Linked DNA regions of Homo sapiens. The protein of the gene in region 7 purifies or fractionates together with the protein of the main gene of each other region. This does not show direct contact. Each region holds a gene or a part of one and is shown on either strand. Other genes may lie near its edges.

What was found.
Region 1: the proteins of DCPS (region 7) and GNAI2 purify together in Homo sapiens (affinity purification with mass spectrometry, with the first as the bait; one large-scale study listed by BioGRID). This does not show direct contact.
Region 2: the proteins of DCPS (region 7) and SMARCA2 purify together in Homo sapiens (affinity purification with mass spectrometry, with the first as the bait; one large-scale study listed by BioGRID). This does not show direct contact.
Region 3: the proteins of DCPS (region 7) and RBM19 purify together in Homo sapiens (affinity purification with mass spectrometry, with the first as the bait; one large-scale study listed by BioGRID). This does not show direct contact.
Region 4: the proteins of DCPS (region 7) and FLNB purify together in Homo sapiens (affinity purification with mass spectrometry; 2 studies listed by BioGRID, with this or other methods). This does not show direct contact.
Region 5: the proteins of DCPS (region 7) and UTP15 purify together in Homo sapiens (affinity purification with mass spectrometry, with the first as the bait; one large-scale study listed by BioGRID). This does not show direct contact.
Region 6: the proteins of DCPS (region 7) and IGF2BP3 purify together in Homo sapiens (affinity purification with mass spectrometry, with the first as the bait; one large-scale study listed by BioGRID). This does not show direct contact.

Annotation. Positions count from the first base shown.
Region 1 is NC_000003.12:50,238,727-50,242,805, reverse strand, and holds part of GNAI2 (guanine nucleotide-binding protein G(i) subunit alpha-2), read right to left. Parts: intron 1-4,079. UniProt on the Homo sapiens protein: Guanine nucleotide-binding proteins (G proteins) are involved as modulators or transducers in various transmembrane signaling systems.
Region 2 is NC_000009.12:2,052,859-2,056,937, reverse strand, and holds part of SMARCA2 (SWI/SNF-related matrix-associated actin-dependent regulator of chromatin subfamily A member 2), read right to left. Parts: intron 2,342-4,079; coding exon 2,215-2,341; intron 267-2,214; coding exon 93-266; intron 1-92. UniProt on the Homo sapiens protein: ATPase involved in transcriptional activation and repression of select genes by chromatin remodeling (alteration of DNA-nucleosome topology).
Region 3 is NC_000012.12:113,945,331-113,949,409, reverse strand, and holds part of RBM19 (probable RNA-binding protein 19), read left to right. Parts: intron 1-373; coding exon 374-577; intron 578-1,945; coding exon 1,946-2,076; intron 2,077-2,934; coding exon 2,935-3,056; intron 3,057-3,485; coding exon 3,486-3,582; intron 3,583-4,079. UniProt on the Homo sapiens protein: Plays a role in embryo pre-implantation development.
Region 4 is NC_000003.12:58,144,303-58,148,381, reverse strand, and holds part of FLNB (filamin-B), read right to left. Parts: intron 2,462-4,079; coding exon 2,333-2,461; intron 1,563-2,332; coding exon 1,389-1,562; intron 177-1,388; coding exon 18-176; intron 1-17. UniProt on the Homo sapiens protein: Connects cell membrane constituents to the actin cytoskeleton. May promote orthogonal branching of actin filaments and links actin filaments to membrane glycoproteins. Anchors various transmembrane proteins to the actin cytoskeleton.
Region 5 is NC_000005.10:73,571,992-73,576,070, reverse strand, and holds part of UTP15 (U3 small nucleolar RNA-associated protein 15 homolog), read right to left. Parts: intron 3,583-4,079; coding exon 3,447-3,582; intron 1-3,446. UniProt on the Homo sapiens protein: Ribosome biogenesis factor. Involved in nucleolar processing of pre-18S ribosomal RNA. Required for optimal pre-ribosomal RNA transcription by RNA polymerase I.
Region 6 is NC_000007.14:23,316,795-23,320,873, forward strand, and holds part of IGF2BP3 (insulin-like growth factor 2 mRNA-binding protein 3), read right to left. Parts: intron 2,461-4,079; coding exon 2,344-2,460; intron 920-2,343; coding exon 845-919; intron 1-844. UniProt on the Homo sapiens protein: RNA-binding factor that may recruit target transcripts to cytoplasmic protein-RNA complexes (mRNPs). This transcript 'caging' into mRNPs allows mRNA transport and transient storage.
Region 7 is NC_000011.10:126,341,893-126,345,971, reverse strand, and holds part of DCPS (m7GpppX diphosphatase), read right to left. Parts: exon of another isoform or gene 3,650-4,079; intron 2,666-3,649; coding exon 2,555-2,665; intron 626-2,554; coding exon 359-625; 3' UTR 1-358. UniProt on the Homo sapiens protein: Decapping scavenger enzyme that catalyzes the cleavage of a residual cap structure following the degradation of mRNAs by the 3'->5' exosome-mediated mRNA decay pathway.

The DNA.
Region 1 (4,079 bases), on a different chromosome or scaffold from region 7:
CAAGGCTGAGATGACCCCACCTTTAGGCCTTTGCTCAGACTGGTGTGGTGCTGCCTTTCAAGCCTTGTAAATGTGCACAGAGGCCGGCACAGAAGAACCAGCCCAGCAAATGTTTGGTTATTCCAGAAAGATTCTTCCTCCCCAGCCACCAAGAGCAGCCACAGCCCCAAGAAGTAACATCAGGGTGAGGGTGGGGTTGGGGTTTAGTAAGAACGAGAGCTTCAAGCTAGAAGGGCTGGGTGGGGCTGGGCAGACGGGGTTCCACCCTGCACCTGTAGCTGAGGGAAGGGCTGCCTGAGAGCATCAGGTACCAGGGACACCATCAAAGGGCCCAATCCTTTGCCTTCCCCAAAGCACCTTGCAGAGCACTCTTAGGCAGGGTGTATCAGCAGTGGCCTGGCCAGAACCTGCTGACCCCTTCCCCTCCTCGCTCAACTCCTAGGCTGGGATTCCTGGCCTGAGATGCTGGGAAGATGAGACTACTCCCTGGCCTGTACCTTGCCCCCATCTGCCCGGTCCTGCCTCCCCCCACAGCACAACGGGATGTAGGGGAGGCAGCACTCAGGCTCTGGGGTGACAGTCTCCTCCTCTGCTGTGGGTGGGGTGGGGGGAGTCCCTGGTTCCTCAGTGGCTAAGAGCTTGGGTGGACAAAGCTTCCTCCATCCTGTTCCCGCCAAGTGAATGGGTGGCTTTTAGAGACAGACTGAGAGAGTCACAGCCAGGGACCAAGAACTAAGATCAACGGCAGAGTATACAGGACCTGTGTGTCTGCCTGTGGCCCAAGTAGCCCCAAGTGCACCTACTGCCCCACCCCCTGCAGTGCTGGAGGCCTAGGGACCTTGCTGGGACCTGACCACACCCCACCCTCAGCACTACCTGCTGCCACTTGCCAGGCAAACTGATGTTCAAGGGCCTGGGACATCAGTGATGGCACTCAGTGACCCTACCTCTCAGGCCACCCAGGGCCAACCGCTGACAAGCTGCCCAGGGCCAAAGGGGTCCCGGACCATCCCCAGGCCCCATCCAGCAGCCTAGGCTCTGACACATAGTGGGTGGTGTGATGCTGCCTCAGGGCTTCTGACATGGAAGCCTGTGTCCCGCAACTGGTTTGACTTCCACCTCCTGCCACAGCAGCGCGGCTCATTCTCTCTGTCCTCACACCTGCTCTGCCCTCTGTCTGGGGTTCCTCTCCCCAACCCGCCTGGGATGCCCCCAGCTGAGCTCCAGCTGCCCTGATTCACCTAGTCTCTCAGCTCAGAGGTATCCCTTAAAGGACCTAGTCTCACTCCTACCCTAGAGGTATGACCTCATGTTGGCTGCACTGACACTGGCGTGAGAGGCAGGGGCTGAGCCTAGCAGAACTGGGCAGGATGCAGGCAGAGGGGGTCAGCTATAGCTTGGACCCCTGTTCACTCCTTAGTGTGGGAGCTCTATCCCTGCCTGCTCCTGCAGACAAAGCCCCGACAAGCCTGGGGGAGGGGTGGGAAGAAGAGACTCAGAGGCCCAAGCCGCCCCGCCCCCCATTCAAGTGCTAATGAGCTCCAGCAGTGAAGGAGAGGGCTGGGGTAGAGTGTAGGGGCTGGAGGCCAGCCTGGGTGGGTACTGGCCCACCTGGCACCCAGGGCCCTACCACATCTCCAAACCTAGACCCCCAGAGGTTGGGCCTAAGGTCCCCAGGGCAGTCTGTCACTCCTGCTGGCACCAACTATCTGCACGCCTTGGGCTCCCCACTTGCTGTGAACAGCTGCCTGAGGGCAGGGGAGGGGGTTCCCTAGGGCTCCAAACCCAGGCCAGGCAGCCTCTAGGATGGGAGACTCCTTCCCACCAAACTCTCAGCAGTGGGTCCCTCATCCATTTTCTTTTTTTTTCTTTTTTTTTTTTTTTTTTGAGACAGAGTCTTGCTCTGTCCCCCAGGCTGGAGTGCAGTGGCACCATCTCGGTCCACTGTAACCTTCACTTCCCAGGTTCAAGCGATTCTCGTGCCTCAGCCTCCCGAATAGCTGGGATTACAGGCACATACCACCATACCTGGCTAATTTTTTTGTATTTTTAGTAGAGACGGGGTTTCACCATGTTGGCCAGGCTGGTCTTGAACTCCTGACCTCAGGTGATCTGCCTGCCTCAACCTCCCAAAGTGCTGGGATTATAGGTGTGAGCCACCGCGCCTGGCCTCCCTCACCCATTTTTCATACCTCCAAGCTTTGGTAGACTGTCCCCATAACCTGTGGCTGCAGGGAGGCACTCTGCCCCCAGGTTATGAGTGGAGAGCAGGACTCCTGCCAGGGCTTCACCTGATGCTGAGTCTCTCAGCCAGTGCCATAGGTGGAACTGGGATTCGAACTCAGGTCTGGATGACCCCATGGGCTGGTCCAGGGAGGGTGGCCCTTTCCCCACCAGGCCAGGAAACACCCACCCAAGCTCTTGGGAATACAGGCCAAGTCTTCCTGCTGCAGTGTTCTTGTCGAGTTGGTCCCTCTGACCCCCAGTGCCTGGCCCTGGCAAATGGTATTCATCCTTCACAGCTGCCCAGCAGACCCCCTCCTCCAGGAAGCCCCCCTTCACAGGCACCATTAGAGTCTAACTCACTACCCAGCCAGCCAGAATCCCAAGCTAACCCTTCCTATCTGTCTCTAGCTAGACCAGGCTCCAGTGGCTGCCCCAGGATTATACTTACTCCTCTCCCAGGAGCTCTGCCCTGTTCATGGACATGTTCAATCACTTCATTCTGTCCATATACCCTCATTAGGCATCTATAGTATGCCAGCCCTTTGCAAGAGACACAGACAGGACAGAGGCCACAAAACCCCCTTTCTTTTCTTTTGGTAAACTTCATTGAGCCCTTGCTATGTGCAGTCTCTGCACTGGCCAGTACCAGGACTCTCACAGCATTGCTCTGGTCTGAGCCCCAGGGCTGCGGAGCAGCCCCTGCTGGACCAGCCAGCTCAAGCTCGACTGTGGCTACTGCAGTGTCAGAGACAGCAGCCCTCTAGCAGTGCACCAACAGCCTGAGTTGGAAGGAAGAATACAAAGCCACTCTGCTCAGCAGGAGTTCCGCACAGGGTGGGATAAGAACTCTCTCAGGTGCCAGCATAGCCTGTGGCGGGGCTGGGAAGAAACAGCCTGAAGAACTTTTCTCAGTGTCCCCTCAATGCTGGTCACCAATCCTGTGGTGGGCCTGTGGGCCCTTGCCACCTGCCCACAGTATGCAAACTGCCGCTCAGTTTACTCCACCATCTACCCAAAATCAGGTTCAGAGGATACTTCCTTCATTCAACAAACAGATGAGAAGCACCCAGTAGATGCCAGGCTCCATGCTGGGCACAGAAATGAAGAGGACTTAGCCCTGCCCTGCAGTCTCCAGGCATCTGAGGGGGGAAGCAACAGCGCTGGGAGCCAGATGTTTCACCAGCCTTGGTCGAGGGAGGATGTCCAGGAAGGATCCTGGGAGGTGATCCCAGAGTAAAGTTTTAAAGAACAATCAAGTAGGGAACAACACACACAAAGTTCCAGGGGCAAGAGAGAACTGCTCTGTTTACATTCTGAAGCCTTTATGGAGCCAATGGTGGACACTGTCTCCTTTTTTTGTGAAGCTGTCCACACAGGCCCATCCCAAATCAGAGACTCTCCCCCCTCACATACACTCTGGCTTCCTTTCCCTTAAGAGCCCAGACCAGGGTCCCAGATTCCACCTGGGCCTAGCTGATCAGTCACGTTGAGCTGGGTAGGAGTGGGGAGCATCCCTAGAATAGGACTGGTATCTGCTCCCCCTACAAAGTTGCCAGGAAATACTCTCTTGCCTGTGTGTACCACATCAGCCTCTGCCCTGGTGACAAGGACTGTGCCTGCCTGCTGGCAGGGCTACCCAAGATGGGAGGGAGGCGGTGTGCGGGCGGGGCAGCAGGCGTGGTTCTGGCTGGGAGGGAAGGCTGGCAGTTGCCCAACCTGAGTCCCGTTGCCTGGACAAAGTCTCCCGCTACATGGGACAGGCGCCCAGAACTCTGAACTTACCACAGCTGGGCTCCCATCACCACCTTGCACCTGGATGGGAAAGGCATGGCTCAAGCCAGGATCCCTCCCCA
Region 2 (4,079 bases), on a different chromosome or scaffold from region 7:
GGGTCCATTTTTCAGTCATTCTGACCCCATTTGATGAATTCATTGGACAGCTCTGCCAAAGTGAGGGTGAGCAAAGCCCAGGGTCTAAGAACCTGGTGTTTCTGACGGCGTTTCCTCTCCTGCTCAATCTTCTGCTGCTTCTCCAGCTTCTCGGTCATGCGAGCTTCTCTCAGAGTCTGGCGCTTGCTCCGTTTGTATGCTTTGGAGTTGAGAGCCGTCTCCAGGGTCGTGTCCCTGCGCATGCAGGCCACCACCTCCTGTCTCAGCTGTCAAGAAGAGAGCAGTTAGACAGCCTTCCCTAACAGAAGCTAGGTTCCTGAACTCTGGCCTTCTCGCGGTTGCATTTAATGGAATAGAGTGGGGCGGGGAATCTCCACAAGCTTCTCAATCACCTTTGGTTTGTATTAAATGAAGGAACTAAAATCATGCCAAATGTATGCAATATTTTCAAGAACGGTACAAGATTTTTCTCCCCAAATAATTCAAATCAAAAGCAATTATAGTACTGTAACAGTAAAAGAAAGAAAAGATGTTGTCTTGCCTTTTAAATAACTTCATTTTCTCTAATTATTCTAATGATACCAATTAGCTAAATAAGCTTTTTAAATTTTCCGCTTTGTTTTAAGTGTCATGTTAACATTCTCTTTGTGTTTAAAGATTAATTTTAATGATGCTCCAAAAAAAGAATAAAAGAATTACTTTCACGTGTGGTAGCAGCAGGTACTCAAACAACGTTAATTCATAGTCTCATACAAAGGATGGGAAATATGAGTTTTGGCTTCTTCCCACTCCAATAATGATCTTCTTTCCAAGAGATCTACATTTTATATTATATCATGAACTTATTTCAGATCACAAATGTAATACTTTTATCTGTATTGCATGTTATGTGGTGGTAGGGGGTAGGGACTGGAGAATACACATTAAATAATCATTCCACTGCATCTGAAATATCATTAGTTACAGTTAATTTAATTAGGAAGCTTCATAAATAACAGATTTTTAAAATAATATCAAACAAAAATCAGAAATCAATAAGAGTCCGTCATGGCAACGCTAATTTGAACATAAACATATTCCGGAAAATATACTTGGTTAATATTCATTTAGTAAGATTTTATCCAGCACTTTATTAATTCATCTTATGAGGTCACCAATAAGAAAGAAGTAAACAGAACTCAGAGAATTTTCCCTTTTCTTTTTAAAATTTAAGCTGAAATCTACTCTCACAAACCAAGAGCCAAGTAGCACCTACCCACCACTAATGTCCATCTGTGAGATTATAGCCGGTAAGGCAAATATACACCCAAATTCCTACCACAATAGCAACTGGAGTGGCCTGTGATTTTAGTCACATCCTCCAACAAACCAAGTCAATACTTCCAAACTACTTTGACTCATTAATTATTCATTTCGCATGTTCCAGACTTTAACAAAACAAACCCATCTGACTAACAATGAAACGTTCCTTATCCCCTTTGGGTTAGTGAGGCAATCTGCGGACTAGCAAACTTGAACCTTTTCAGTCCACAAGGCAAAACTCGCCAAAGTGAAAATTAGCTCTAACTCATTCCACTTGTCTCTTACTAATTTAGAAATCAGAAAATAGGTCATTATACTGGCTTTTAATAACTGCTGTAAACTACAAGAGCAGATAATTTACTGATTAGTCAATACATGAGCCTGATGTGATCAAACACTCCAAACTTAGACATCGGTGAATAAATAAGCTATAAGACATTGCTTTATGTATTTCTATAAATGATGAACCACTAATTCAGTAGCGTGGCTACCATATTTGTTAAAATTATTTTCACAGTCGTGGCAAGCACTTTACATCTGTGCTTACAAAGAAGCTCCAATCCACTACCTTCTGGTTTTTCCTTGGAGTCATAAAAGCAAACATGAGCTACCCCACTTGTTCCCAAGGTTTTTCATCCATGGTAACAAAACGCCATAACTCTGACTTTGTAACCCATAGTACAGGAGGAAAAACTCTTTCCCATATACAGAAGAGAAAACCAGAATAATAAGCAGTTCATCTTCATCATTTTTAGTTGTAAGCTGTTGGTCTAAAAGATTCACTATTTTACTATATTTATATCTTTATATCTTTGTAACAATATTGAATAGACTAAAGGCAACACAGATAACACTTTAGGAACAATTACATTTATTTCCTACATCTCAGATTCACTGGGGAAAATGTATTACCTGACGCTGGAAATTGAGTAACCGAAGTGCTTTTAGTTCCACGGTTGCTTTGGTTCTTAAATCTGGTGGCAAAGAGCCAGGCAGATTTTCCAGTTCTTGTATCCTATGAGCTATGCGGGCCTGAAGTCTAAAGGAAACAATAAAATGGGGAAAAGGGGGCAGGGGAAAAACACATTACAATTTAATCTTAAATGATAAACAATGACATTAGGTTTAAGTCCGGGGCAAAACATATTCCAGATACTGATAGTTGATCTCTAACACCCAACTAGAATTTTTGATGTTAAGCAGAGAAAAGCTACCTTTGCATTAATGCAGACAGGTATATGTTACTTAACAATGTGGCTTCCTCCATAACCTCTATCTAACACTAGGGAAAGAAGGTTCACCCTGCATCTAGTGGGGAAGTCAAATGTCCTTGCTCACTCTTAGCAGAGAGAGAATATAAGAGACAGAACCAATTGACAAGCTTTCTAACTCCCAGCCAGACAGAATGCAGAGCTGAGAGCACAGACTTTTTTCTTCCGAACTTCTAGTTCTGTCCTAAGGCAACCAGACCATTTGTCTTCTTTGCCAAGATGCTGATGACGACAGCCATTAAAGCGCAGTGAGCAAGAACAGTTTTAGGTGCTGATGCCACAGAAATCAGCCAACCCTAAACATTCAGAAAGCGCTCTGCCAGCCACAACCACTTCCTCTGTGAGCAGAGCTTGCTTGAGAAAAGAAAATACAAATGAGGCTGTTTTAAAAAAATCAGGGCCAGCAGTAAATAGTACTCAAAAACCAAGAGTTTCTAGAAAAGGATGTTGAGGATTCTCGTTTTACACACCATCAAAAATATAACTGCATGTACTTCTTCATAATAAAGGCAGAGTAGAAAATAAAAGACCTCTGACTTTAGCCATTCACTTGGGATACTATTACTGTTAGATATATAAACTGCTGGTTTTAGAGTTCACCTGAATCCTATTCTGACAAAATAATTATATGCCATTTAAGACTATTTTTAGAACTACATCCCCTAAATCTGAGGCAAACTGTACTGAACTAGATTTCAACAAAGAAAGAATAATAATAAGTAATAAGTTAAAGTAGGCTAATATTAACAGCACTAAGTGCCTTTAATGTACAATGTTATTTAATTGTCTCTCTCTTACACACACAGACACGCCTCTGTAAGGTAAAAGTTATAATGGTCCCATTTTGCTGATGAGGAAAACTGAAGACACCTGGAGATACCACAGAGCTAGTAAAGAAGGGGGCCAAGATTGGAACCTCAATTTGCCTGATACCAAAACCACTGCAATAAAATGATAGATAATTAAGATACACTTTCCGAGAACCTTCCTGGACCTCAACTATAAAAGCTGAAAATTAAGAATTCTGTTAAAAATTATGCACAGCCATAAAAAAGAACCAAATCATGTCCTTTGCAGCAACATGGATGCAGCTGGAGGCCATTATCCTAAGCAAATTAATGCCGGAACAGAAAACCAAATACCGCATGTTCTCACTTTTAAGTGGCAGCTAAACACTGGGTATTCATGGACATAAAGATGGCAACAATACACACTGGGGACTACTAGACGGGGGAGGGAGGGAGCGCAGGAAGGGATGAAAAACTTTTAGGTACTATGCTCATTAGCTGAATGATGGGATCAACTGCACCCCAAACCTCAGCATCATGCAACATACCCATGTTAAGAAACCTATTCATGAATCCCCTCAATCTAAAATAAAAGTCGAAATTGTCTTAAAAAATGAATATTACAGTTTTTTCCAAACATGATGATGTTGCCAGAGTACAGAGCTGGGAGGACAGACTTTTTTCTTTCTAACTTCTGGTTCTGTCCTAAGGCAACCAG
Region 3 (4,079 bases), on a different chromosome or scaffold from region 7:
CAAATAAATCATCAGCAGGTAAGTACCCAGGGCTGGGCTGTCACCTAAGACCCTTCCCAAGGCAGAACAGCAAGCAGTGCCAGAGAATACAGCCCGGAGTTTAGAGAATGCATCACCGTGGTCTGGGATAACTCAGGCAGGCTCCCTCCAGGGCTGAAGCTGAACTGGCAGGGTGAGTGAGATTTGGGTTCAGGCCTGGTGTTGGCTTGGCTTATGCTGCCGCCTCAGGTGACAGGGCAGGTGTTGGGTGCTGTCATCTGCCACCTTGATTGTGTTTTTTGGAAGGCAGCAGAGAAGAGTTTGGAGTCACCAGCAAGGAGTTGCTGGCAAGTTCTAGGCCTCCCCCTGGAGCCCTGACTCCTCTTCATTGCAGGTGGGCGCTACATCGAGGTGTTCAGGGAAAAGAACGTCCCCACCACCAAGGGTGCACCAAAGAATACCACCAAATCCTGGCAAGGCCGGATACTCGGGGAGAACGAAGAGGAGGAGGACCTGGCCGAATCCGGAAGGCTCTTTGTACGGAACCTGCCCTACACCAGCACCGAGGAGGATCTGGAGAAGCTCTTCTCCAAATATGGTAGGGGTGTGGCCTCCGGGCCGTGGATAGCCCAGCGGCTATGGGAGCCGGGCTCTCACTCTGACGTCCTGGGTTCAAGTCCCAGTGTGCACACGACTCCACATCTCTTGCCTCAGTTTTCTCATCTGTAAAATGGGACCAAGTACCCCTGAGCTGCTGTGAGGATTCAGTGACATGATGAATGCAGGGATTCGCAGGGCAGGAAGTAAAAGGTATTAATAGCATCACTGGCATCCTTTGCTGTCTGAACTCTCTAACTTCTCCAAATTCAGAATTGAAGCAATTCGGATGACTTTTTTGAGATACTCCCTTGCTGTCCAAAGTCATGCCACTCGGTATTGGAATTGAGTAACTGTACAGGTTTCACCTGATGAATATACCTACACGGCGTTCCTCCGTATCTGAACTCTTAATTATGTAAAGTCTTCTTATCCAAGCTGAGCACCAAATAGATTTGATAGTGTCAAGGTTAGTGTTGTTGTTGCTGTTATTTCTCAGGCCATGGGCTTGAGGGCCTGTAGTCCAGCTTGGTCACAACAGGCTGTGTTTGTTTGTGGAGTTACCATTGTTGAAGGGCAGGAAGGGAGGGTTCAGGATGAGGGGAGGTCTTGATACCTTTGAGATCCCCGCAGTGTCTCCCCATGTCTATTCAGAGGCCAGCTGTAGGTTGTGGAGGATTGGAGATGTAGGTTGAACACCTGATGTGGGCCCCGTTGTCAGGGTAAGGATGCCCTGAGTGGAGCATGCCATCAGGAAAATTGACCTGACCTCCAAGCCTGGGGCCTGCCCCAGTGGAACTGTGTGTTCCATTCACCAGTCTGCTCACCATATCCTTCACACAGGCTGGCATCCCGGCTTACACCTCATGGGTGGGCTGAGGGGGAGAAGCATTTGTCGATATATTGCAAATGTCCATTTGGGAAGGAAAGACCCAGAGAGGGGACGCGGTCACACCCTGGCATTCAGAGTTGAAACCAATGCAGAAAGGGTGTGCTTTAATTTGAGCATGATGCTAATATCATCATGGAAGACACTTCTTTGGCACTAACTCTAGCAGGCACTGTTTAGTGCACTATGCACGCATGAACGCATTTAGCCCATGAGCTAGGTACTGTTGTGCTGTTTTACAGATGAAAAGACTGAGGCATGGGGAGGCTTAGTGATTTGCTCAAGGCAAGCTTCATGTGTAATAGGTGGTGGTGCTGGGCTCCAGCCCAGGTATTGTTGCTGTTAGGATAGACACACGTAGGGGACTGGGAAATGACACCCATGACCTGTGAGGTTGGCTCACAGCTGGTGCTCACCACATTCTTCCCTGGGGCCAAGTGGCTGCGGCCTACCAGAGACCGACACTTCTCCTGTCCTCAGGTCCCCTGTCTGAGCTCCACTACCCCATCGACAGCCTGACCAAGAAACCCAAGGGTTTTGCATTCATCACCTTCATGTTCCCTGAGCACGCTGTGAAGGCCTACTCGGAGGTGGACGGGCAGGTATTCCAGGTGAGGCCCCGTCCTGGGCTGGCCAGGAGGCTGTGGGGCTCACATGGTCGGGAAAGGCTGGTGTGTGTGTGTGTGTATGTGTGTGGACACGGGCGTCCACTTTGTGGGCCTAAGAAAATGTGCAATGGCATGCTAAGTCACTGCCTCACTCAAGCCACTGGAGAGTAAGAAGTCGTGTGAGGGCACGGTCTGATCTGTTCTGGTCACTGATCTGTGGCACCTACACCTCTGTCTGGCACTTAGCAGGCACTGAAAAAATACTCCTTGAATGGATGAATTTGCTCTCCATCTCTATAGATACCACCTTAGAAGAGGAGTAAGAAGAAAAGAATTTTGACAGGGACCTATTAAAATGGCCACAGTGGAATAAAAGAAACTTCTCTTTTCCCAGTGTTACCAAGTAATATACTTAGCATACATCCTCAAGCCCCAGGCTGCCTCATCATCACCCTTTTTCCTTTTCTCATTCATTCATTGATTTATTCATGATTTCTTGATCCCCTTGTTGCCATCAGGCCAGACCTGGCCCCACCGGCATGGACCTCACATTCTTACTCACTGGTGCAGGGACAGGATGCGATGCAGGCTTGAGAGGCGGGGAGAGGGCTGCGGGTGCGGGGTTATACACTGATCGAAGTTTTGTGTGTGTAGCTGTGTCAGGTGGCCCCCTCACGACATCAGGATCCTGTGTCAGGTGGGAAGAGAGTGGCCACGTTCTACCTGACCTCCCTCCCACCCTCTGGTCAGGGTTTCAGTGCTGGGTCCAGCTTACTCGTGGCAGAAGCCAACATCCTTCGGCAGGAAGCAGGGCTTACAGGCAAGGCTTCTGTTTACTCCCTTCCCGTCATTCCCATCCAGGGCAGGATGCTCCACGTGTTACCATCTACCATCAAGAAGGAAGCCAGCGAGGATGCCAGTGCCCTGGGATCGTCGTCCTACAAGAAGAAGAAGGAGGCCCAGGACAAAGCCAACAGTGCCAGGTCCTCAGTGCCCCTGAAACCACTGAGCTCCAACCCCAACCCTCTGCCACCCTCACCCTGCCCTTTCTAAGCCACCTGGGTCTTCTGACTCCTGATGGGTTTAGTTCATACCTTACCGAGCTTCAGTTTTCTCATCTGTAAAATGGGAGAATAATAGTAGTGCCTTACTTTTATGGTGCTGTAAGGTTTAAATGAGTGAATGTATGTGAAGTTCTTAGTCCCTGACACAGATGAAGCACTGTTAGGGATGGTTCCTGTCATCATCCGTCTTGTTGTCTTCAGGCCCTGTATACGTAGCCCATGATAGGGAAATTGGGGGCATGTAGATAGGCAGGCCTAGGAGCCCATTTCTTACAGGATTCGTGTCTGAGAACGAGTTCCCCTCATCCAGCTGCGGTCTGATCTCCCTGTTCTGCCTCTGCCTCTTAGCTCTCACAACTGGAACACACTATTCATGGGGCCGAATGCCGTGGCCGATGCCATCGCACAGAAGTACAACGCCACCAAGAGTCAAGTGTTTGACCACGTGAGTAAGGGCCGACCAGTCCTCTCTGGGATCTGGGCCAAACTGAAGGGGAGAAAGAGCAGGAGGCTCGTTGTACTGCTGTTGGCTGTGAGGCTGGGGCCGCCAGGGCTTTCCTCTTGGGCCTTCCCAGAGGCCTCTGGAATGGAAGGTGCTCTCCCAGCCCTCCCTTTGGAAACATCCCCAGCCAGGCTCCAGCCCTGGCTTCTCATGCCCTTATGTGGAGCCACCCCGGAGAATGTGATTGACAGTGGTGTTGACAGGTGACATTCCTGAGAATTAGTGTGTGGTACTCCTCACAATGGCCCTGTGAAGTAGGGTTTGTTGTATCCCATTGTCCAGATGAAGAAACCGAGATCCAGGGACACAATAACTTGTCCAAGGTCACAGACTTGCAAAGAGGTGGAGGTGGGAGGACACCAGGTCTGGCCAACTCCGGTGCCTTGGCTCTGAACCATGTCTCATGATTTCCGCAGCCCAGGCAGCCCCAGTCTCTGAAG
Region 4 (4,079 bases), on a different chromosome or scaffold from region 7:
AGGGTAGCCTAGCTCACCAATGTGGTTGTTGGGCAGCCTCTTCAGGAGACAGGGCTCGTCTCGGCCAGATGGGGCCTTAATGCTGGCCGTCAGGCTGCTGAGGTCAGTCTCACTGATGTCGAGCAGGAAGTCAGCGGCTGAGCCCAACTTCACCTGGGAGCACCGCCTGCTGTCATCTGGGAAACATCCCCCAAAAAGGACTCCCGTTACATGTGGTTACCCTGGCTTCACAGAGCTGCCATGCCATATGCTGTTCACGGATGAACACGCAAGAACTAATTACACAAAGTTAAGTGAAAAAAAAATGAGCCTTGAACACTGAGTAGACCCAACCAATGAAGAATGATGGGATTCATGCCTGCTTGCAGCAAAGACAAGAAGCTGGCAGGACCTAGAGACTTGAGTCCTCATGGACCACATTTTAAAGGAATCTTTGGGCCAGGTGCCTAATCCCAACACTTTGAGAGGCTGAGGCAGACGAATCACTTGAGGTCAGGAGTTCAAGACCAGCCTGTCCAACATGGTGAAACTTCATCTCTATTAAAAATACAAAAATAAGCTGGGTGTGGTGGTGGGTGCTGTAATCCCAGCTATTCAGGAGGCTGAGGCAGGAGAATCGCTTGAACCCAGGAGGTAGAGGTCACAGTGAGCCGAGATCATGCCACTAAAACTCCAGCCTGGGTGATAGAGTGAGACTCTGTCTCAAAAATAAAATAAAATATAGGAATTTTTGTTAGTTGAAGGCACCTCATACCTGCCTGGCATGGCTGTGGGCATTTCTAGGTAAACAATGACCACATTCCACACAGTACTACTGGCTGCTTCACAGACAGGTCTAAATACGGTGGGGAAACAGGATCTGCCTTGTGCATCTTCCTTATAACCCACTGAAAGCATAACCTGAACACAGCAAGGTGAGGAGCATGGGCTTTGGAATTTGATAACCTGGATCTGTTTACCTATATGTGAACTTGGCTACACCACTACCTTGCCAAGCCTCAGTTTTCCCATCTGTAAAAGGGATAGCAGAAAATTTACCTAGTAGTGACGCTGAAGGGCATGTCTAAGCTCATGCACTTCATGCACTATTGCAGTAAGTATGATTCGAACACTCCATCTGAGAGCTTTCTCTTTGCACCCTAGAGTCACACTGGCACAATAAAAGTGTGCTCCAAATACTAGCTCTCGCATTTTCCTGGATTATCAGCAAGAGAAGGATTTAGCTAATCCAAAATTGCATTCCATCCCCTGCTCCTCCTCAACAAGTCTCTGTGAAACCTAAACTCAAAGAGACGTCTAGCCTGCTGCCAGGGGTCTGATAAGGAGGGTGGCAGTCAGAGGCAGCCATACTTCCCACGAGGAAGACCCCAGAAGCCAGACAACCCTACCTGTGATCTTGGCTGTGAAGGGGCTGCCAGGGATGTGCTTGTCATTGTACTTGACCAGAATGCTGTAGTCGCCTGGCAGAGTCGGCAGGTAGGTCACTGTGCATGTCCCATCTTTATTGTCAATGCAGCTGATTTCTGCTTTTGAGGGGCCCTCAATAGCCAAGTCCAGACCACCTACAAGTGGGAACAGGGATGCAGGGGTGTTAGGGAGAGAGTTGCCTTGTTTTAAGAGTTTCCTTTTAACAACTCATCCAGGGCAGCCCTGATGCTGGGGACAATGGATTGACGCACTCCACGTGAGCTGTGGGCAAAGGGACATCTGTCAGAATGAAGCAGTCCACGCAGTAAAAACACCCACTGAGAAGAAACCCCAAACATCTGAGTTCTTCACTGCAAGTAACCCTGGAGCTCTCTCTACTCTCAGGATGCATGGGATGAGAAAAGGAAGGAGCCGTGTACATCAATTACACATAGGAGACGGTGGGTGGTGGAGGGCAGAGGTGGATTGTCCCTGCCCATCAGGCACTGGCTGCCATCACGGAAATCCCATTAGAACCACAGATTTGGGATTATCCATGAATACCACGGGAATGGGCACACAGCTTTATCAAAAAGAGCCACTCAGTAAGTCATGTGGTCTTGTGGATACATGTGCAACAAGAACAAAAACATCACCAACCAAAACACACTTAAATTCCAGACAAGTCACATAAAGTATTTCATAGCATGAATCTGATTTCAGTTAGAACACAAAGGACTTCAAAAATGTCTGTCTGGGTAGAAGACGAAGCGGCTCTAAAGAAGAAACAGATTTACACGAGAGAAAAGACAAGACAAATACTACCATTCGATTGTCTCACTTTTAAAAGCCACCCTGGAACCGTGTCCACTTCACCCTCCAAATGGACAGCTGGAGGCGTATAAACACGTAAACCACACAGTACCTTCTCCTGCATCCTCTGTGACGATGGTGAAGGTGGCAGTTTTGTTGGCCACTCCATACACGAGGCCTGGACCGTATGCAGAAACACTTCCACTGTTGGGGTAGTTCACGTAGAACTGGAGTGGGCTCTCTGGGTTTACGAAGGACACAAACAAAATTGGTGCTCATTAAGGGGTGAACGAAGACCCTGGACAACTGGCATCTTGACGTCCACCTCTCTACAGGTCTGGCGCCTCCTAAGCAGAGGCATGAAGAGACAGAAGGAGATGCACATGCACCTCCCATCCCCCGCCATCCTAGGACATCAGAGAGGGTCTACGCAGTATTATTCCTTCAATCACAACATAAGAAAAACAATCCTGGAAGCTGCTCCAGATGAGGAAGGGGGCTAAGGTAAGGTACCAGCCCAACCTGACAAATAAGGAAGAAACTTTTGCACTGGGTGGTGAAAGGACCCATGGCCAGAGGGAAGGTAAGTGGAAAGGGCTTTTGGAAGGCCATTTGCCCATGCCATTCAACCTGTAAGGAATCAACCCCACAGTGGTCTTCTCTGCCCACCCCGACTCCTAGCCCTATGTAAGCACTTTCATTTCTGCAGTGTTCGGGTGCACATCAGGAAAAGACCTAAGTGTTCACAACAGGGGACCGGTTAAATAAATGCTGATCTACTCATGGGCCATTAAAAAGAGTGAGGAAGACCCATGTTTACTGACTTGAGAAATTATCCATAATATGATGCATTAAAAAGAAAAAAAGCAAGTTGCTATAAACTATGAATACCATTATGCTATTCCTTTAAAAACAAAATAGAATAAAATTATATGTATGTTTGTAGATACAGAGAGAAACATCTGAAAAGATACACAACTCACACCAGCAGTGGAAGTGGATGGCAGATGTGAGAAAGACATTTTTTCCTCTCTCTCCATCTGCCGCTTTAGAATATTTAAATAGAAGCAGATAATACATTTTTGCTTTAAACCAATATTACATACAGACAACTAAAGTAAATGCCAATCTCAGAGAAACATTTGCAACTCCTACCACAAAGGGCTAATCTCTCCAATGTTTACATTGCTCTTAGAAACTATATGACAAAGGCCAATAACCAAATAGAAAAACAGGCCGTGGATCCAAATGTTCAGTTCACAGAAAAAGAAATACAAATAGACATAGGGAAAGTTGTGTGGTCTCATTCACAAGAGAAATACAAATAAAGCAACGCTGAGATTCTGTTTCTTTCCAACCATCAGACTGGCAAAGCTCCAAAAATTTGATACCATATTCTACTGGCAAATTTTGTGGAAAAGAAGGTGCTCTTCTCCATGGCCAGAGGGCGTGTGAACTGCAACAGCCCCTCTGAAGGGCAATTTGGCAAGATCTGTCAAAATCATAGATGCCTGCACTGGGGCCCTAGCATTGCCTCCTCTGGTAACTAAATCTCACAGATACATCTTTGTGAGTGTGAGGTGACTAGGGGAAAAGTCGATTTGCGCAGCAACACTGGGGACAGCGAGGGCAGGAAGAACCAAAATGCCCTCCAATAGGGAAATGGTCAAATATGTAATGGTTCGTCCACATGAGGGAAGGCTGGGAAGACACTCTCTTATATATCTGTATTTCCGTTTGCATGGAGAGTCTTAAAAATACTCTGAAATTGGCCAGGCGTGGCGGCTCATGCCTGTTATCCCAACACTTTAGGAGACAAAGGCGGGAGGTCTGCTTGAGGACAGGAGTTTGAGACCAAT
Region 5 (4,079 bases), on a different chromosome or scaffold from region 7:
AGCCACTGTCATCTGAAGATCAAACTTGGGAGTAAAGAAAAGGTATTAGCCGGGTGCGGTGGCTCACACCTGTAGTAATCCCAGCACTTTTGGAGGCCGAGGTGGGCAGATCACCTGAGGTCGGGAGTTAAAGAGCAGCCTGACCAACATGGAGAAACCCTGTCTCTACTAAAAATACAAAATCAGCCGGGCATGGTGGCACATGCCTGTAATCTCGGCTACTTGGGAGCTGAAGCAGGAGAATCACATGAACCCAGGAGGCAGAAGGTGCGGTGAGCCGAGACCGCGCCATTGCACTCCAGCCTGGGCAACAAGAGTGAAACTCCATCTTAAAAAAAAAAAAAGAAAAAATTATCAATGAAAGCACATCACAAAGCCAAGTGTGATGGCTCACACCTGTAATCCCAGCACTCTGGGAGGCCAAGGACAGCAGATTGTTTGAGCCCAGGAGTTCAAGACCAGCCTGGGCAACTTGAAGAAACCCTGTCTCTAAAAAAATAAATTAAAAAAAAAAAAAGAAAGAAAGAAAGTACACATGAAGCCAAAGATCAGGGATTCTCAACCTCAGAATTACTGTCATTTTGGGGCACAGAATTCTTTTTTGTGGGGGTTGTTCTGTGCATTGTAGGATGTTTAGCAGCCTTCCTGGCCTCTATCCCCTATATGGTAAGTACCATGAGTTGTGATAAAAAACAATACTTTCTCAAGATATTGTCAAACGTTCCTTGAGGAACAAAAATCACTCTTGGTTGAAACCACCACAAATAGAGCCAATTTACACTTAGCTTTTAGGAACATACCTAAGAATCAAGTCCCAAATTGCCGAGTAACATGATTTCAGTAACATGTGTAAACTTGCCATGTATTTACATAAAAAATTCCTTTGTATTAAAAATATTTTCTAGCTTTTAAAATATGTACAGTCAATCCTTCTTATGGCAGGTTCCACATCTGCAGATTCAACCAACCATGGATTGAAAATATCCATAAATATATAAACAATACAGAATTTTAAAATACAGTGTAACAACTATTTACATAGCATTTGCATTGTATTAGGTATTACAAATAAGCAAGCCATGATTTAAAGTATACAGTGGATGTGTGTAGGTTATATGCAAATATGCCATTTTAAATAAGGGACTTGGGCATCCACAACCAATTCTCCTCAGTTACCAAGAGATGACTGTATACTTTTTAATTAACATGCTGAAAACTAAAGTTTTTCATAAGAGCAGAAAAAAATGAAAATATGGAAATAAAATAATAAAAAATAGATCATGTAAGCCGGGCACGGTGGCTCACGCCAGTAATCCAGCACTTTGGGAGGCTGAGGTGGGAGGATCTGTTGAACTCAGGAGTTTGAGACCAGCCTCGGCAACATGGCAAAACCCCATCTCAACAAAAATACAAAAATGAGTCAGGTACAGTGGCGCGTGCCGGTGGTCCCAGCTACTGAGGAAGCTGAGGCGAGGGGATCGCTCGAAGCCAGGAGGTGGAGGTTGCAGTCAGCCAAGATCATGCCACTGCCCTCCAGCCTGGGCGACAGAGCAAAACCCTGTCTCAAAAAAAAAAAAAATTAATAATAAATCATGTAAATTCTAGAACTGTGCCATACTTCTAGCTGCACATGGCTACTGACCACTTGAAATGTGGCTAGTGAAAATGAGAAACTAAATTTTTTATTTTATCTAATTTTAATTTAAAAACTGAGACAGTAATTTTTATAAAATATTATCTTTTTTTTTTTAGAGACAGGGTATCACTGTAACCCAGGATAGAGTACAGTGGTACTATCACAGCTCACTGCAACCTCAAACTCCGGCTTAAGTGCTTCTCCTGCCTCAGCCTCCCTAGTAGCTATGATTAAAGGTGTGTACCACTGTGGCCAGCTAATTTTTTTAATTTTTTGTAGAGATGGGGTCTCACTATATTCCCTAGGCTGGTCTCAAACTCCTGGCCTCAAGTGATCCTCCCACCTCAGCCTCCCAAAGCACTGGGATTACAGGTGTAAGCCACTGTACCAACCTAAAATATGATTATTGTATCATAGTGCACATGTTTAGATGCTTAATTTATTTCTAGTATCTTAATAATTTTGACATAGATTACATACTGAAATTATATTTTATATGTAATATATATTTTATTTTTACATTAGATATTAGGCTAAATAAAATGTGCTATCTAACTTTTAGGTCAGGCGTGGTGGCTCATGCCTGTAATCCCAGCACTTTGGGAGGCCAAGGTGAGTGGATCACCTGAAGTCAGAAGTTCCAGACCAGCCTGGCCATCACGGCGAAACTCTGTCTCTACTAAAAATACAAAAATTAGCCGGGCAAGGTGGCAAGCGCCTATAATCCCAGCCACTCAGGAAGCTGAGGCAGAATCGCTTGAACCCGGGAAGCAGAGGTTGCAGTGAGCTGAGATCCCACCACTGCACTCCAGCCTGGGCAACAGAGCGAGATGTCATCTCAAAAAAAAAAAAAAAATTAATTTATCTAATTTTTAAAAAACTTTTCAGGCCAGGCACAGTGGCTCACACCTGTAATCCCAGCACTTTGGGAGGGCGTGGTGGGCAGACCACACGAGGCCAGAAGTTCGAGACCAGTCTGGGCAATATGGCGAAACCCCGTCTCTACTAAAAATACAAAAATTAGCCAGGCATGGTGCTGCACACCTGTAATCCCAGCTACTTGGGAGGCTGGGTCACGAGAATCGCTTGAACCTGGGAGACAGAGGTTGCAGTAAGCCCAGATTGTGCCACTGCACACCAGCCTGGGCAACAGAACAAGACTCTGTCTCAAAAAAAAAAAAAAAAACTTCAAAATATATGAATGTACAATAATGATTTTAAAAGATGGTTTATAGAATAACATTATTTGAAAGATTATCATTCAAATGGTTCAATAATGTTGTTTAAGTATACAAGTTAAAACAAATTGTGTCAAAGGAGAAAATAAGTAGCTATGGGTGGCCGGGTGTGGTGGCTCACGCCTGTAATCCCAGCACTTTGGGAGGCTGAGGTGGGCGGATCACGAGGTCAGGAGTTCAAGACCTGCCTGACCAACATGGTGAAACTCCGTCTCTACTAAAAATAAAAAACTTAGCCGGGCATTGTGGCGCGTGCCTGTTATCCCAGCTACTCAGGAGGCTGAGGCAGGAGAACCACTTGAACCTGGGAGGCGGAGGTTGCAGCGAGCCGAGATTGCACCACTGCACTCCAGCCTAGGTGACAGAGTGAGACTCTGTCTCAAAAAAAAAGAAAAGAAAAGAAGTAGCTATATGTAAACAAAAGGTCAAAACTATTTTCAACTCAACAGGTTTTTTTCTCCTGGAAATCATTATCTGTATACTTATCACAAATATTGCTGAAATAACTCATTTCCTCAAGCAGTAAACAGGTGTACACTAATAATAATATACAAAAAAATTAAAATGCCAACCTATCCAGTGAGCCAGAGAGTAACCTCTGTCCAGAGCTGCTTAGACATAAACATGTCACGGTTTTGTGATGATTTTTCAAAGATACTAGCAATTGTCCTCCTTTTAACATGTCCCAGACTTTAACATAACGACCTCCTATAAAAAGAAATCATCGTTAGTTGGATATTCTGCCCACAGATTCAACATATTAAAGATCTGAAAAGCATTCTTCTCTGGACACTCCACAAAGCATGGAGGCTGAGTGAGGGAGTCCAGGCCAGGCTGCCTGGTAAAATCCTGGATGCACCACTTCCTGGGTCATTGGTAATAACAGTTCCTACCTCACAGAACTGTTATGACCATTAAATAATATTTGTGAAGTGTACATAAATTCCAGCAAAATAAATGTATAACTGAAAGAGTCCATTTTAAGAAAATTATAATAAAATCATTTTTTAAAAGAAATTCTATATAGCAGTGGAAGTGAATAATGTAGATCTGCAGCAAAATATCAAGCAAAAAAGTCTAATATGGAAAGACAGAAAAAGGGATGGAAGGGGAGACTGAAATCTTGACTGGGGAACAGGAGTTGGAACCCAACTCACAGTTCCCACCTCTCCACTCCTATGTGGCACCTCACAAGAGGGATCACA
Region 6 (4,079 bases), on a different chromosome or scaffold from region 7:
TCATACACTAAAAGGAATATATTTATGAATTTGGCATGGTCTTAGTCTGATTCATCCATAGTCTGTTGAATACCCCCAGCACGCTAATTTTGTGCTGCCCATGTGTTAGGCACTTTTCTAAACATTTCATATATTGTGTAAACCTTAAACTACCTTAGGATGTAGGTGCTCTTATCCCTGGTTTTACAGAAAAAGGTTAAGTAACTTGCCCAATGTCATACAAGGCAAATGGCAGAGCTAGGATTTGAACTAGCAGCCTGGCTGCCAAGTCTCAGCTCTACCATCTCTCAGTAGACATTGAAAGGCACACTGCAGCCCCAAAGACCTCAAATCCCACTAAACGTGCAATGGTTCATACCAGAACAAATGCTACAAGAGCTCCTGCCATTCCTATCTCTAAGATCCCAGGGATTAGAGAGATTTGTAGAGTCTATGGGCAGGGTCTAACAGAGATAATCCAAGGGTAAGGAAAAAGGGGGCATTTTAATTCAAGTCTAGGCAATCTCAGGGACAGGAGGGAAAACATCTGAAAACAAGTTTCCAAGGCATATTAACCTGGCAGGTTTGTAAATTTTAAGGTCTCACCTTAGCATAGGATTACAAACCATTAAGCAAAATTAACCTTTGAGAGACAGGTAAATCCAGCAACCAGTACAGAACTCTTAAAATTAAAGACTTTTGGTTAATTTCGAAATATAATTTTGAGTGTGATTCTACTCAGCTCTTAGATAAGAATTTCCATTGACTCTTTCTGAGATTTAGACATATTTAAGGGAGACGCCAGGTTATGGACTACCTGTGCATTTGTTACCTGTGGACATAGCACATACTCTAGAGCACATACCTTGAACTGAGCCTCTGGTGGTCCAGTGATAATCACCATCCTCACTTTAGCATCTGGTGCTTCCGCTGGAGCAATCTGTAACAGACCCAACAACAAGTTATGATACTTTCAGGTATCACTGATAGGCATCTTGGGCCAACCAGCCTAACATTTGCATGTGACTGGCTGAAATGCAGAATTAAAGCCTTCGTGAAGGAAATTAGGGAGAGGCAGCAATTCCTGTGGGTTCACAATTTAGGCCTCCCTCCTGCATATACTATATGCTTATTCTGTGCCGGGCCCTAATGGAGACCTCCACGTGCTGTCTCTCAGCTAATCCTCACCACGTCCTGATGAAGTAGTATTACCTCCACTTCACAAATGCGGAAATGGAAGGCTGGAGAAATTGAGTTATCTGGACCATGATCACACAGCTAACAGAGCTAGAGGGAGAGCTGGGTCTGTCTCCATTGCCTGTGTTCACTACACCAGTGGTGCTCAAAGTATGGTCCTTGGCCCACTTGCATCAGGGCTCCTTGGGCTTCCTGTGTATGCAACACACTCTAGGAATCTCTGTACCCTAAGTTTCAAGGATACTGCACACCACATGCCTTTGTTTGTCTGAGGCAGGGTCTTACTGTGTGGCCTAGGCTGGAGTGCAGTGGTGTGATCATAGCTCACTGCAGCCTCAACCACCCAAGCTCAAGTGTTCCTCCCACCTCAGCCTCCCAAGCAGCTGGGACTACAGGTGTGTGCCACCATGCCTGGCTAATTACACTTTTTTTTTTGTAGAGATGGGGTCTCACCATGTTGCACAGTCTGGTCTTCAGCTCCTGGGGTCAAGCAATTTGCCTGCTTTGGCCTCCCAAAGTGCTGGGATTACAGGTGTGAGCCACCGCACCTGGCCAACCTTTATTTTCCTTAAATAAGGCATCAAAATACAGAATCTTCAGAACACACAGTTATCTATTACGGCAGACACCATTATTTGTCCTCTGGTATGTTACCTTCTGTAGTTACAAAATGTTTAGCTGACTGTGCATAGCCTGTATTTTGCCCCTTCAACTTCGTCTGGCCAAGTTCTGGGCAATGGAAATATAGGTAGAAATATCCCACAGTAGCTAACAAGAAACCTCCCTAGAAGAAAAGCTCTTTATTATGTTCTCCTCTCCTACTGGCTGGGCAACAGACCTGATTCCTGGAGCACTGAATGGTGTCAATCTGGAACCAAGAGGGACCAAGGCCGTACCTGGGGAAGGTGGCTTGGAAGGAACTTAGGTCCAAGGACTTGGTGGGGGCAGAGCCAACACCCAGCCCGGATGTTCACCTCCTAACTGTGTTTTCTGCACAGAGAAGTTAGCCTCCTTGGTGTAAGCCACTGTTGTTTGGGGGTTTCTTCATATCCTTATGTAACCCTAACAGTGTCTTTTACATTCTATTCAAATTATAAAGTGGCAAGAAGATTCATATTTCTGTAACTTACTTAAAGAACCAGAGAACCACAGCTGGTAGAACAGTACCTTAATTGAAGCTCCAGCAAAGCGAGAAAGCTGCTTGATGTGCTGGCCCTGCTTGCCGATGATGGCACCGACTGATAGAGCTGGGATAAACAGATGAACAGTCTCCGTTTCTGATTGCTGTTAGAAAAGAAAGCCAGGACACCCATGTTTATTTGCTACAAATCAGGCTTTTGTTAACATTAGCTTTAGGAAGGACACCTTCTCATGCAGTAGGAATACCAGGAAAGTTTAAGGAAAAGCTACCATAAGAAGTTGACCAGACCTTACCTAATAGGTCAAGAAGATCTCATACAGTCATCCTGAAAACAGTGGTATTTAAAATTTCACTTTTCTCTACTGTTGCCTTAAACTTTAAAATGTCACTGAGTTATGGATTTAAAAGATATGTAGATGTTGTAAAGTTTAATCATATTAGAATAGCGGGACATGCTTGCATTAAAAATTAAGTAAGAGCCCCCTACCACTCTCAAGGTAGATTCTTAACAAGTAAATGAAATTCTGGGCTACATATCAAACACAACAGAACTCAAGGACGCCAGCTCCACACCTTATCTATGTAGGTTTCACTCCTTAAACACATACACAGTGAAGTGTTTAAGAGAAAAGCTGAATTTTGTTACATATGACTAAATTGTATGAAACCTTACCACTGTCATTCAATAGTTATCACATCCAAGCACAGGACAGGATTAGGAGAGAGCTAATTCACTTTAGTGGTAAGATGCCCTAAGATGCTTTCCCACAGAATTCCTTATTCCTTCCATCTGTGCCTTCCCTTTGCTTTTTTTTTGAGATGGAATCTCACTCTTGTTGCCCAGACTAGAGTGCAATGGCACGATCTCGGCTCACTGCAACCTCCACCTCCCGGATTCAAGCTACTCTCCTGCCTCAGCTTCCCAAGGAGCTGAGATTACAGGCACTTGTCACCACACCCGGCTAATTTTTTTTTTTTTTTGTAGAGATAGGGTTTCACCATGTTGGCCAGGCTGGTCTTGAACTCCTGACCTCAAATGATCCACCCGCCTTGGCCTCCCAAAGTGCTGGGATTACAGGCGTGAGCCACTGCGCCCAGCCCCCTTTGCATTTTATACATGAAAAAATTAGAAAATATTTTGTAGGCTAACTCCTGAAAGGTCATTCATAAATAGATTTTATCTATGTACCTCATTCCTTCACTACTTCCCACTTCAAGCCAGTTGTGCCCTTCCTGGGTCTCTTTTCAAATAGTCCTTGCAGGGATAAAGGACACATTTGCTCAAGAGTTCACAGTGACTGGGCTCCTAAAAAGGCCAATTCAAGGTTCAAGGTTCAGTAATGCTACCAGTCAACTAACAGTTCTAAAGTACAGAAGCAGTGCACATAATTTATGCATTTTCCACTTTGTTTACCTTCTAACAATATAGTGAGAAAAACACTTCCAAGGATAAGCTAGTTCCAAGACACATATTACAAGAAATAGTTATTGAAATGAGCCACAACTGAAGAAGCCAGTAATATGCTTTTGTTTAAAAAAAAAAAAAAAAAAAAAAGCCAGGCACAGTAGTTCATGCCTGTAATCCCAGCACTTTGGGAGGCCAAGGTGGGTGGACTGCTTGAGCCCAGGAGTTTGAGACCAGCCTGGGCAACATGGCAAAACCCCATCTCTTCAAAAATTACAAAAATTAGCCAGGCATGGTAGCGCTTGCCTGTGGTCCCAGATACTCAGGGGAGGCTGAGATGGGAGGATCACTTGAGCC
Region 7 (4,079 bases):
TACAAACAGGAGAGGCACAGAGTGGGGAGAAGGAAGCCACCACGGACGGTGAGCCCTGGGGCTTGGAGAAGGCCCTCGGCACCCTTCCAGGGCAGCTCCCACCTGTCAGTTGAAACCACCACCTGGAGACTTTCCACCATTCTCAAGGCCTTCCCACAGGTTCTACCCACCCACTGTCCCCCACCATCTGTCTGCCTCCCAGGCCACGCTGTCCACACTGAGTGAGCCCGCTAGTTTATTCAATACTAGGAATAAGCCGGTATAAAATACATTTTTAGAAAATTCACTTGGAGATAAAAAATCTTGTCCCCACTCCTCCCCCAATCCCACACATCTGTGCTCTTCTGCCTGAGTTAATTCAGCTTTGCTGAGCCTCCTGCAAGAGCTTGAGCAGGGGGTCGTCAGCCCTGAGGGCGAAGGTGAGCGTGCGCTGCTGGTAGTGCCTAGGGTCACACTCCAAGTTCTCGATCACCTCAGCCAGCAGGTGGGCCCGCTCCACGCCTGAGCCGGGGGCCTCGAAGCCCAGGGCGGTGAAGTGCACATGCAGGTGGTAGTAGGAGGGCAGGTAGTGCAGGTATACTCGCAGATGGTCTCCCTTCATCCGGTAGCGCTGCAGGATGGCCTCCTGATGAGACAGGGGCAGGCAGGTCAGGAGTCACCGTGCTGCCTGAGGCCCGGCGCCATGTCCCCACCTAGACCCTCCTCCCATCTGAATCCTGGATTGGCCTGGGACAGCTCACAAAAACCCTCCAAACAGCTCTCTACCTGCTGTCTGCTTCAGCTTCCTCTGTCTTCTAGTCTAGGAAATCCACAAGTGCAGGTGACAGCAGCAAAGCTGAGACTCTCCCAAAAGAAGTGGGGAGCGGCCTCAATCAGCATTCCCCACCCCAACGTGGAAAAAACACTGGCTTCCTCAAACAGTTGCTGCTGGGAATCTTGGAAGGCCCAGTGTCTACAGACAGGCCCCAGATTCCCAAGACTATGGGGACTTTCATGATTTAGAAGCATTTCATCAGTCATGAAGTGGATGGGAGGAAGCCTCATTCTCTCTTTTAGCATAGCACAGGGTGGAGCTTGGAAACAATGAAGTTGGGGATGGGGCTATGCTGAGAACTTGGTGAAAGAGCAGGGACTGTGGAAGGGGTATGGGAGGGGCTGCTCCCACACAGACCTGGCGAAGTCTCAGCGGGCTCCTTGCAGAAGAGGAAAGCATTGACTTTGGCCCTGGCTCCCTTTGCCCACCTCCACCTTGCTCAGGGGTGGGTCTTTTTCTACCAACCTCCACCTTCAGGAGGCTGTGAGGCATAGAATTAAGCGGAGACTCTCATCTCCATTGTGGGCAAATCCCTGAGGTGGTCAGAGGTGAAGAGAAAAGTACTAGGGCCTCAGTGGGCTCAGTATATACCCCAGAACTGTGTTCTGCATTTGGAGCTCACCCCAGGAATCCCTGCAGCGGGGCGAGACCAGGGCCAAGGCACCCGAGGGGCTTCCTGGAGTAAGTGAGGTCTGTCTGCCAGGGTGGAGCTGTCTGAGCTGCTAGGGCAGGTCAAAGTGTTGGCCTGGCATCTCCCCAAGAGAAAGACACCATTCTTTGCCATTTGTAATATCCAGAGACTGCTTCAGGATCTGAACAAGTCACCCCACAAAGATAAAGGCAGCCAAGGGGTGGTGCCGTGGGTGAGCAGGAGGGAAGATAGATCGGGGCCCAGCAGCAGGGGAAGCTGGGTATGGGCAGAGCCTTGCCTCCAGGTCTGCATTAACACCTCGAAGCATCACTGGTCAAAAAGGGGCAAACCTCTCTCCTGGCTGGGCATCGTTGTGACTGCTAGCTCTGGCGTGTTAGGCAGAGCATCACATTTCAGAGTGGAAAAAAGACTCAGACCCAGCCCCTTAGGATGGTGGATTTAGAAGGGATCCATCTAGATAATGTGGTTTAGGGAGGTGAAGTGACCTGCCCCAGGCCACTCAGCTGGTTAGGGTCCAAATGTCAGGCCAGGACCACACCCAAGATTCTAGACACTCTTCCCCCATCTCCCCGTGCTCCTGGGCTCTGTTTAGAGCCCCGATAATTTCATTCAATTCAACAAATATCCCAGAGAGAAAGTATCCCAGAACACCAGGTGCTACAGAATTCAGCCTGTCTTCAATCTAGACAAGGAGACACACGTGTACACACATATCGAAGTCATGTGCCCATACTCCCAAGAAACTCTGGCATGATGTGGTTGTCATGGTTGTCATGAGAGAGACAGGTGATCCTGGAGTAGGAGGGGCCAGGACTTAAGGACCAGAGTCTATGGGGTGAGGGGTGGAAGTGCATCCCAGATGGAGAAAGGCCGAGGAAGGCGTGTGAGGGTGAGGAAAGGTGGCAGGACCAGGGACAAAGAGCCCTGCTCTTCAACCTCAAGAGCCTAATGGGGTCCCCAAGACTGGCATCCAGAGAGAAGTCTCTCCAAGATGGACTCTGGGAAAGGTGAGGAAAGGGGCCCAGGAACACACTGGAATCTGAGTCTAATTTCTCTGAGCTTCCACGTGGTTTGGTGAAGCCACTCACCTGCCCCTGGTGGAGGATGTTCCTGAGCAGCGGCAAGTGCTCCGGAGTAAGGTCGCGTAGGGATCTGATGCCCCGGCGATGGCAGATGGCGATCAAGTACAAGTCATCGAGCTGCGTAGAGAGCAAGGGGAGACCAGGCTCAGCAGGGAACAGACCTGGGGAGGCTGCCAACCCTGGAGTTCTCACGTAAGCCAGGAAGCACCCACCCCTGAGGCCTACAGCACCAGGAGAAACCCCGCAGGGCATCTGCATACCCCGGGCGTGTGGGATGGTCTTAAGGAGCAGGCCTACTGTGTACGCTTCTTGCTAGAGAATACCATGTGAGAGTCCTTTTTTTTTTTTTTTTTTTTGACAGAGTCTCGCTCTGTCGCCCAGGCTGGAGTGCAGTGGCGCAATCTTGGCTCACTGCAACCTCCGCCTCCTGGGTTCAAGCGATTCTTCTGCCTCAGCCTCCCAAGTAGCTGGGACTACAGGTGCGTGCCACCATGCTCTTTATATTTTTAGTAGAGATGGGGTTTCACCATATTGGCCAGGCTGGTCTCAAACTCCTGACTTCATGATCCGCCTGCCTCGGCCTCCCAAAGTGCTGGGATTACAGGCGTGAGCCACCGCGCCCAGCAGAGAGTTCTATATGCTCACTCCCCAGAGCTGTCGGGGCAGGGAGCCAGGAGGTTCAAGAAAGAGCAAGGGCAACTCTCTCCCTCCGAGAGTTTACAGTCTTATCGCATGTATGCAAGTAGCTCTACTGTAAGACACAAAATAATCCCAGTGCAGGAGGAAGGAAAGACTCTAGCTACCTGGATGAACCCAGGAAGGCCTCCTGGAAGAGAAGGCAGAGGATCAGGTCTAGAAAAAAGGTAGAATTTGGAGAAAGGGTATTCAGGTAGAGGAAACAGAGCAAAGACTCGGAGGCAAGAATGTATAGGGCATAGAATGTATACGGAAGGGGAGAGGAAGCAACTTGATTTGTTTGGAGTCAAGGCCCATGAAGGGGTGGAGTGGGGTCTGAAGGCTGAGAAGGGAGCCAAGGGCCAGCTCAGCAGCACACACAACACCAGGGCAGTTAGCTTGTTTCTCTCTTCCCCTATCGCACAGGATACCTTCCTGCTGTCCTTCCTGAGCACAACCTGGCTGAAAACCTGGAGGTCACAACAGTACAAAGAATCAAAGTCAAGATCTTGTGCCAGAGAGCAAATGAACTCTTCCTCTTGCTGAGAAAACCCACCCTGCTCACCTAAACCCTGGCCTTGCCTGGTAATTCCATCCATGCGCCTGGAAGGCCCCAGACATCAAGGCTCTGAGGGGCCAGGCACGGGGAGAACCCAGCAGTGCCCTGCCCTGCAGTCTGAGCTACCAGATTCCTTGTGAAGATAATTTGAGGACCATGACTCACCCAACCACATTTCCTGGGGCCTCAAATTGAAAATTCAGGATGGGCTTTTCTATATGACTGGCTGATATCCAACTATGCCATGGTCTTTACATGCCATGAACATTCTTTCCTGCCAGAGTTCTAAGAATCTGT